Homo sapiens: one gene and its partner. The protein of the gene in region 1 binds, or shares a complex with, the protein of each later gene. Each region holds a gene or a part of one and is shown in the gene's direction. Other genes may lie near its edges.

Region 1 (3,600 bases):
CAGCAGGCCAAAGGCCTCCACATAACCCCTCAGGGAGGCCTGGAGTCCAGATGCTGTACTCCAGTATCTAAACAATCACTCAATCTTAAAGCTGACAGGTTCAAAGCTCTTACTTTGGGCCGAGCGCAGTGGCTTACGCCTGTAATCCAGGCACTTTCGGAGGCTGAGGTGGGTGGATCACCTGAGGTCAGGAGTTTGAGACCAACCTAGCCAACATGGTGAAAACCCATCTCTACTAAAAATACAAAAATTAGCTGGGCGTGTTGACACGTGCCTGTAATCCCAGCTACTCGGTAGGCTGAGGCAGAAGAATCGCTTGAACCCAGGAGGCAGAGGTTGCAGTGAGCTGAGATCATGCCACTGCACTCCAGCCTGGGTGACAGAGTGAGACTCCCGTCTTGGGAAAAAAAAAAAAAAACAAAAAAACCTCTTTCTTTGGGCCAAGCCTCCACTGAGTGCCAGGGATACAGCAGCAACCTCAGACCCTACCCTCGGGGCTGACAGGGCTGGATCAACAATTGCATCAGTGAATTAAAAGGCACAGGAGGCTGGGCACCGTGGCTCACGCCTGTAAACTTTTGGAGGCCGAGTTGGGAGGATCGCTTGAGCCCAGGAGTTCGACACCAGCCTGGATAACATAGAACTCCGTCTCAAAAACAAACAAACAAACAAAAAAAACGTTCCCGACTGGCTTCCCTGAGGAACGTGGCGTCCCAGTGAGACCGGATGGGTGAGGAGCAGCCGGCCTGTGAGTGGTGGGGGACCGCGTTCCTATCTCGGAGCTGAAGAAGCGTGGAAGATGATCTGGCCCAACATCTCTTTGTTCTCAGAGGAAGGGCCTTCCAAGACCGGGGAGGGGCCTGTGCGTGGGTCCCGGTCCGAAACGTGTCTGGGCTGCTGCGAGAGACAGTCGGTGAAGGAAGGGAGGGGACATCCGAAGGGTGGCCCGGGAGGCCGGGCGATGGTGAGGAGGGCGCCTCCTCTCCACCAAATCCTCCCCATCCATGCGGGCTAGGGACAGACCCTCCCCCGCCCACCCTAGGCTGGAAAGTGAACGTTCTCTGCACCTCTCCCACCTACAGACTAAGTAGGGCACCCGGTTTCCGTGTCGGCTTCACCACTGACTCGGAATGGGATCTACCTTTCTCTGAGCCTCACTTTTCCCATCTGAAAAATGGAACTTCCGATCCCGCACTCCCATCCCACTCTGGCCCCGGGACTCTGGGATACTTAGAGATTGGCTTTTGGTGGGGCGGCGACAGGACTGTGGCCATGAAGGCCAGGGAGTCTGGGTCCCCAACTCGGTCCCATTCCCTAGAGAGATTCGGGCAGCAACCGGCCCCACAATGCTCTTGAGAACTACACTTCGCCGATATGCAAAGAAGAGGAGGCGGTTCCTGCTCGTCTCCGACGAGGTGGGCCCGAGCAGGCCTGGGGACTACGACTCCCGGCGTGCTCCGCAGTCCAAAGCCGGAAGAGCGTGGACCCGGAACCGGATGTGGCTTGCGGCTCGGGTGGCTGAGCGCGCGGGGAAATGGTGAGATTGGCACCGTGTGCCGGAGATAGGGGCGTCTGGGGGTGGGGTCCCGGGTCTGCTCAGGAGCTGGGGCATGGGCACTTGGAACGGGGATTGCTCTCCCGCCCCCACTATTGTACGGACGACAACGCGGAGGCCTAGCATTCTCTCCCAGCCTAGAAACTGATCCCTAGTCAGCCCTCTACCATCTGTTGAATGGGAAGCTTAGACCGTGATCGGGCCGCGACGCCCCGCTTCCATTAGTGCGCCGAAATAGAGGGTCACTTCGTCAGCTGAGACCTCCCTTTTCTCCAGGCCACGGGGACAGACCAGGTGGTGGGACTCGGCCTCGTCGCCGTTAGCCTGATCATCTTCACCTACTACACCGCCTGGGTGATTCTCTTGGTATGTCATTCTCCCCGTCCGCTGCTCACCTTCCCCGAGCCCTGGCACCGCCAGAGCAACTACTATATAGGCTCTAGGCACGGCGCTGGCTTCATTGCCTGCCTCATCTCTTGAACTCTCCAGAACAACTCTATGAGGAAGATGCCAGTGGTACCGCATTTTATAGATGAGATAGCTGAGGCTAGGGGAGAAGGATCTGGCCCAAGATTGCATCCTTAGCCGCTACACTTATAACTCTGTTTCCGGCTTGCTTTGACTTTTGGGGGAGTTCTGTTCCTTCTGGGTTAGCCTGCTGACTCTTAGGCATGGCAAACGCCAGTGATATTTGTGAAGGCCTTTAGGATATTTTTTTCTTGTGGGAAAACTTGTTGGTTATTGCTTAAGAAGTGCAGTGTGTCTGGAAGTGCAGAACTTGGTATCCTTTAGAGAAAAAATATTAGTGAAGAAGCCCTGGAGGCCCAGGTTGGGAGTCAGTCGAGGATTCCTCAAGTACCATTTGCTAGGCTGTGAGGTGCCTTAGGGCAGGTCTCTTGTGCCCTGTTCTCTTGTCCCCACCACCAACCTATAGCAGGCACCAAAGCAAGTGCCCGGTAAATACCAATAAGAAATTAAGGAAAGAAACAAACCACGACACCCAAATGCCGTAATCTTAAAGAAAAGCAAATGCAGTCCCAGTCCTCTGAATGGGTCAGCCCCTTAGATGGAGGAGGTGGGACGTTTGGGCTTGGGGGCTCGGCAAGGCAAGCAAGACACACCAGAGCTCTTCCCTCGATGCCAGCCATTCATCGACAGTCAGCATGTCATCCACAAGTATTTCCTGCCCCGAGCCTATGCTGTCGCCATCCCACTGGCTGCAGGCCTCCTGCTGCTCCTGTTTGTGGGTAAGTCATCACCTCCTCCCCTTGACCCTGGGCAGGGTTTCGGGAAGACCCCACCTCTGAACATGCTTCCACACTTTGGCGGTGCTGGAAGCTGCTTGCCCCGAACTCACCCGTGGGGTTTTCCTGTTCATCCTTCGAGGCTGCCAGTCAGTAACCTCTGGGTTTCCTGGTGCCCCAGGCTTTTTGGACTCCAATGACCTGTCTACCTCTTTCCTGCCCCAACCCCATCATCACTCTGCTCACACCTCAGTCACCCTCTTGTCACCCTGGCTTCTAATTCCTGCACCTCTCTCTCTCATGGCTTCCTAGGGATGGGGACTGTGTCTCCATCATTACTGCACATCTAGAACAGGCTGTGGCACTGAGGCTGTGCTCAGAAAGTCATTTGGATGAGTCAGTCAACAGCCGGGTGCCTGGATGATGGGTGGATGGATGGGTGGGTGGGTGAGGTGTAGGAGGAGGTGGGTAGGTATGTAGGTGGACAGACAAGTGGTTGACCGGGTGATCGATAGATGGGTGGATCTTGTTCCCCTTGGAATCTGAAACACTAAATGCAGCATCTTGCTTGAGGCAGGCACTCAGTTGGTGTTTGTTGAGTGAATGTGAGTAGACATATGCCTTGACGAATGACTAGGGAGATAAGCAGGTTCCCTGGAGGATGGTTGGGTAGGTTCACAGCCCTGTGTGTGGGTGGCTCTGCTGTGTCATGCCCTGGCCTCCCAGCAGCCCTGAGCTTAGATCTTATGTGGCCTTTCTGGTCTGTGTATCCCAGGACTGTTCATCTCCTATGTGATGCTG
Region 2 (3,734 bases), on another chromosome or scaffold:
TGTCATTCTTGCAAGCACTTTATGTGAATCCACTTGCTTGTTCCTCATGAAAGCCAAGTGAGAGGGGGCTTTGTCACGCCTCTTTATATTCTCAAGATCACATGGCAAATGAGTAGTGGCCAGGATTCAAACCCAGGCATTGTGGTTCCAGGGTTCATCTTCCTGTCTGTAATGCTATCCTGCCTCACATAGAAAGGGGCCATCAGATTGATATGAAGAGGCAAAAAAGGATCAGGGGAGGGTGGAGAGGTGGAATTAAGAGTCTGAAAGTAAAGCATACCAAATAGAAATAGTTTGGATTTCCTACATAAGAAATAAACAAGCACATCCTTGTAAAATATAAATGTTACCAGTAAAACCGAAGTTGCCTTTGATGAACATTTTATTTATTTATTTATTTATTTTTTTTTTGAGATTGGAGTCTCGCTCTGTCGCCCAGGCTGGAGTGCAATGGCAAGATCTCAGCTCACTGCACACTCTGCCTCCTGGGTTCAAGCAGTTCTCCTGCCCCAGCCTCCCGAGTAGCTGGGATTACAGACCTGCACCACCATGCTGGCTAATTTTAGTATTTTTAGTAGAGACTGGGCTTCACCGTGTTGGTCAGGCTCTTCTTGAACTCCTAACCTCAGGTGATCTGCCCACCTCAGCCCCGCAAAGTGCTGGGATTACAGGCGTGAGCCACCACGCCCGACCTGATGAACATTTTCTATAGGCATCCCATTCCCTTGCACAGGGGAGACCCAGGTCAACAGTTTGGTGCGTTTTTTTGTGCATATATGTGTGTATGTGCATTTGCAGAACTAGGTAGTGTGGTGGTCTTGTTTTTTAAAACATAACTGCCATCTTCCTGTATCATCATTACTTCTAATTCTGTCTTGGCGATCTTTTGTCACCAGCTCACCTCATTTCTGTTAATGGCTCCATAATACTCTAATATTTTATATAAACCTTTGAAGATTCTGAAAATTATAAGTATCATAGTCTCCTTGTCCATGGTTTTGCTTTCCGTGATTTGTTACCTGCAGTCTGAAAAGAGGTAAGTACAGTACAAGAAGATTTTTTGAGTTAGACCAAGTTCACATAACTTTTATTACAATATATTGTTGTAATTGTTTTATTTTATTATTGGGTATTGTTAATCTCTTACTGTGCTTAATTTATAAATTAAACTGTGATAGGTGTGTATGTATAAGAAAAAGTATATATAAGGTTTGGTACTATTGGAGATTTCAGGCATCTCCTGGGGGTCTTAGAAAGTATCACTTGGGGTTAAGGGGGTGTGCAACTGTAACAAAGTTATGTTTGTTTGTTTGTTTGTTTGTTTGTTTTTTGAGACGGAGTCTCACTGTGTCACTGAGGCTGGAGTGCTGTGGTGTGATCTCAGCTCATGCAACCTCTACTTCCCGGGTTCAAGCGATTCTTCTACCTCAGCCTCCTGAGTAGCTGGGATTACAGGCACGTGCCACTACACCTGGCTAATTTTTGTATTTTTAGTAGAGATGAGGTCTCACCACGTTGGCCAAGCTGGTCTCTTAACTCCTGACCTCAAATGATTCACCCGCCTCAGCCTCCCAAAGTGCTGGGATTACAGGTGTGAGCCACTGCATCTGGCCAAAGTTATCTTTTTTTAAAAGAAAGATTTTCCAGCTAAAACAGAGTTGTAGAAAATCTCAGATGAGCTTTAAAAAATTTGCTTTTTCAGGGCAGATACCAGATGGGGATCAGTATTTTGTCAGAAATTATTCACAAAATCAAATAAAATCTAGCTGTGATCTGATATATCCTGCTCGATTTTGTTCAGTGACTTGCAATTATCATAGATGCTTATTTGAATGTCTTTCCTTCCTGTAAGCTCTTACCAGACAGCAGTGTATTTTATCCATCTTTATGCAAGATGTACTTTGCTATAGATACAAATTGTGACTTAAAATTTTTTAAATGTGGGGATAGTGGAGTAAAAGTGTAGAGGATTTCTTTTTAGCAGTTAGAGTTAGATTGTTATCAGCTTAAAATAGCCTGTTATCACTATAAGATGGGTTTTGTAAGTCTCATGGTAATCATAAAGGAAAAGCCTAAAGTAGATTCACAAAAGATAAAAAGTAAGGAATCAAAGCATAATAGTACAGAAGATAATCATAAAGGAAAGGAGAAAGAGAAAGAAGCAAAAGATCTACAAAACAACTAGAAGCAATTAACAAAATGGCAGTAGGAAGTTCTTACATTACATGTCGGTAATTACCTTGGATATAAAGGGATTAAATTCTCCAAAGACCTGGAGTGACTGAATGGATTTTTTAAAAAAGAGCCAACTATATGCTTCCCACAAAAGACTTGACTTGTAAGGATACACATAGACTCAAAGTGAAGGGATGGAAAAAGACATTCCATGCAAATAGAAACCTCCAGCAGATTGCATATAGTGAAAAAAAAAAAAAATCATCTGCTTTAATTGAAAATGCTTTGTTGAGAGATTTGCAGTCAGAGGCAACCTGCTTATATACTGGCAAGTGTAGAAGGGGACAAGATAGACAAGACATGCTCACTAATGAGTCTCCCTGAACCCCATACCTCAGAAACGTAGGGCACAGTGAGAACTTTGGCATTTGACTTTTAAAGTGTCCAGCCAAAAGGAAAAACTAAACAAGTAAAAGTCAGGCTCCAACTATTAAGCAAAAAGATTTAGGAGGACTAAGTGATTGACCAATAGTAAGAAAAGAGAAAGAATTTAATTAGGAATATGACATGTCCTTGGACCAGTAGAGGAGATGAGGTCATCCAAGCATAAGGTCAAGATAAGTTAATAGAGGAAGAGTGATATTAGTATTCAAAACCCAAAGGGAATCGAGAGAACAAACATCAGATTTCCCAAGAAGGTGCAAAATAATGAAGTAAGTCCTACATTTTTCTAGGAAGGAATCAATAGATTTAAAAGGAAAATCAAATATAGATGTAAAGACATATTTAAAATAGAGTGAGTGACACCAGAAAAAAAAGTTTAAAATTGTGATTGTAGGGTCAGGGTTAAAGAATGTTGCTTTGCTGGACGGGCGCGGTGACTCATGCCTGTAATCCCAGTGCTTTGGGAGGCCGAGGCGGGCGGATCACGAGGTCAGGAGATCGAGACCATCCTGGCTAACACGGTGGAACCCTGTCTCTACTAAAAATACGAAAATTAGCCGGGCATGGTGGTGCATGCCTGTAATCCCAGCTACTCTGGAGGCTGAGGCAGGAGAATCACTTTAACCCAGGAGGCAGAGGTTGCAGTGAGCGGAGATCACGCCACTGTACTCCAGCCTAGGCAACAGAGCGAGACTGCATCTCAAAAAAAAAAAATGTTAGCTACGTTAAACTATTTGGTTTGTTACCAAATGCTTTTTTTTTTCTTTTGGCAAAAAAATATTAAGGATACTTTGCTTTAAGTTCTAACAAGTGCAACTATATTTCTATTAAAGTGAGTATGCACTTTTGAATAAGATAAAATTTAACATGATAAGATTTCTGTTTCTGTGTGTAAAATGCTATTTCTTATTCCTACAGCTTCTAAGACCACGAGAGAAAAAGTTGGGACTAGGTAAGTCGTGTAATCTCTAACCCCTCACACCTGCTGCTTGCTTGGTGACATGATCCAGTGTGTATTTTCCCAGTTTGGAATAGGGCCAAAATACAGTAACTTCCTATGATGGTTTTTAATGATCTTAATGACATTTAAATGGTATAACTTGGGTCGCCTGTAT

What was found. The genes of interacting proteins can lie anywhere in the genome.
Region 2: DPM2 (region 1) and DPM1 share a complex: the UniProt entries of both Homo sapiens proteins name them as parts of the dolichol-phosphate mannose (DPM) synthase complex.

Annotation. Positions count from the first base shown.
Region 1 is NC_000009.12:127,935,755-127,939,354, reverse strand, and holds the start of DPM2 (dolichol phosphate-mannose biosynthesis regulatory protein), read left to right. Parts: upstream 1-1,500; 5' UTR 1,501-1,534; coding exon 1,535-1,537; intron 1,538-1,831; coding exon 1,832-1,921; intron 1,922-2,044; coding exon of another isoform or gene 2,045-2,140; exon of another isoform or gene 2,141-2,538; intron 2,539-2,576; exon of another isoform or gene 2,577-2,699; coding exon 2,700-2,802; intron 2,803-3,574; coding exon 3,575-3,600. UniProt on the Homo sapiens protein: Regulates the biosynthesis of dolichol phosphate-mannose. Regulatory subunit of the dolichol-phosphate mannose (DPM) synthase complex; essential for the ER localization and stable expression of DPM1.
Region 2 is NC_000020.11:50,948,466-50,952,199, reverse strand, and holds part of DPM1 (dolichol-phosphate mannosyltransferase subunit 1), read left to right. Parts: intron 1-3,537; coding exon 3,538-3,571; intron 3,572-3,734. UniProt on the Homo sapiens protein: Transfers mannose from GDP-mannose to dolichol monophosphate to form dolichol phosphate mannose (Dol-P-Man) which is the mannosyl donor in pathways leading to N-glycosylation, glycosyl phosphatidylinositol membrane anchoring, and O-mannosylation of proteins; catalytic subunit of the dolichol-phosphate mannose (DPM) synthase complex.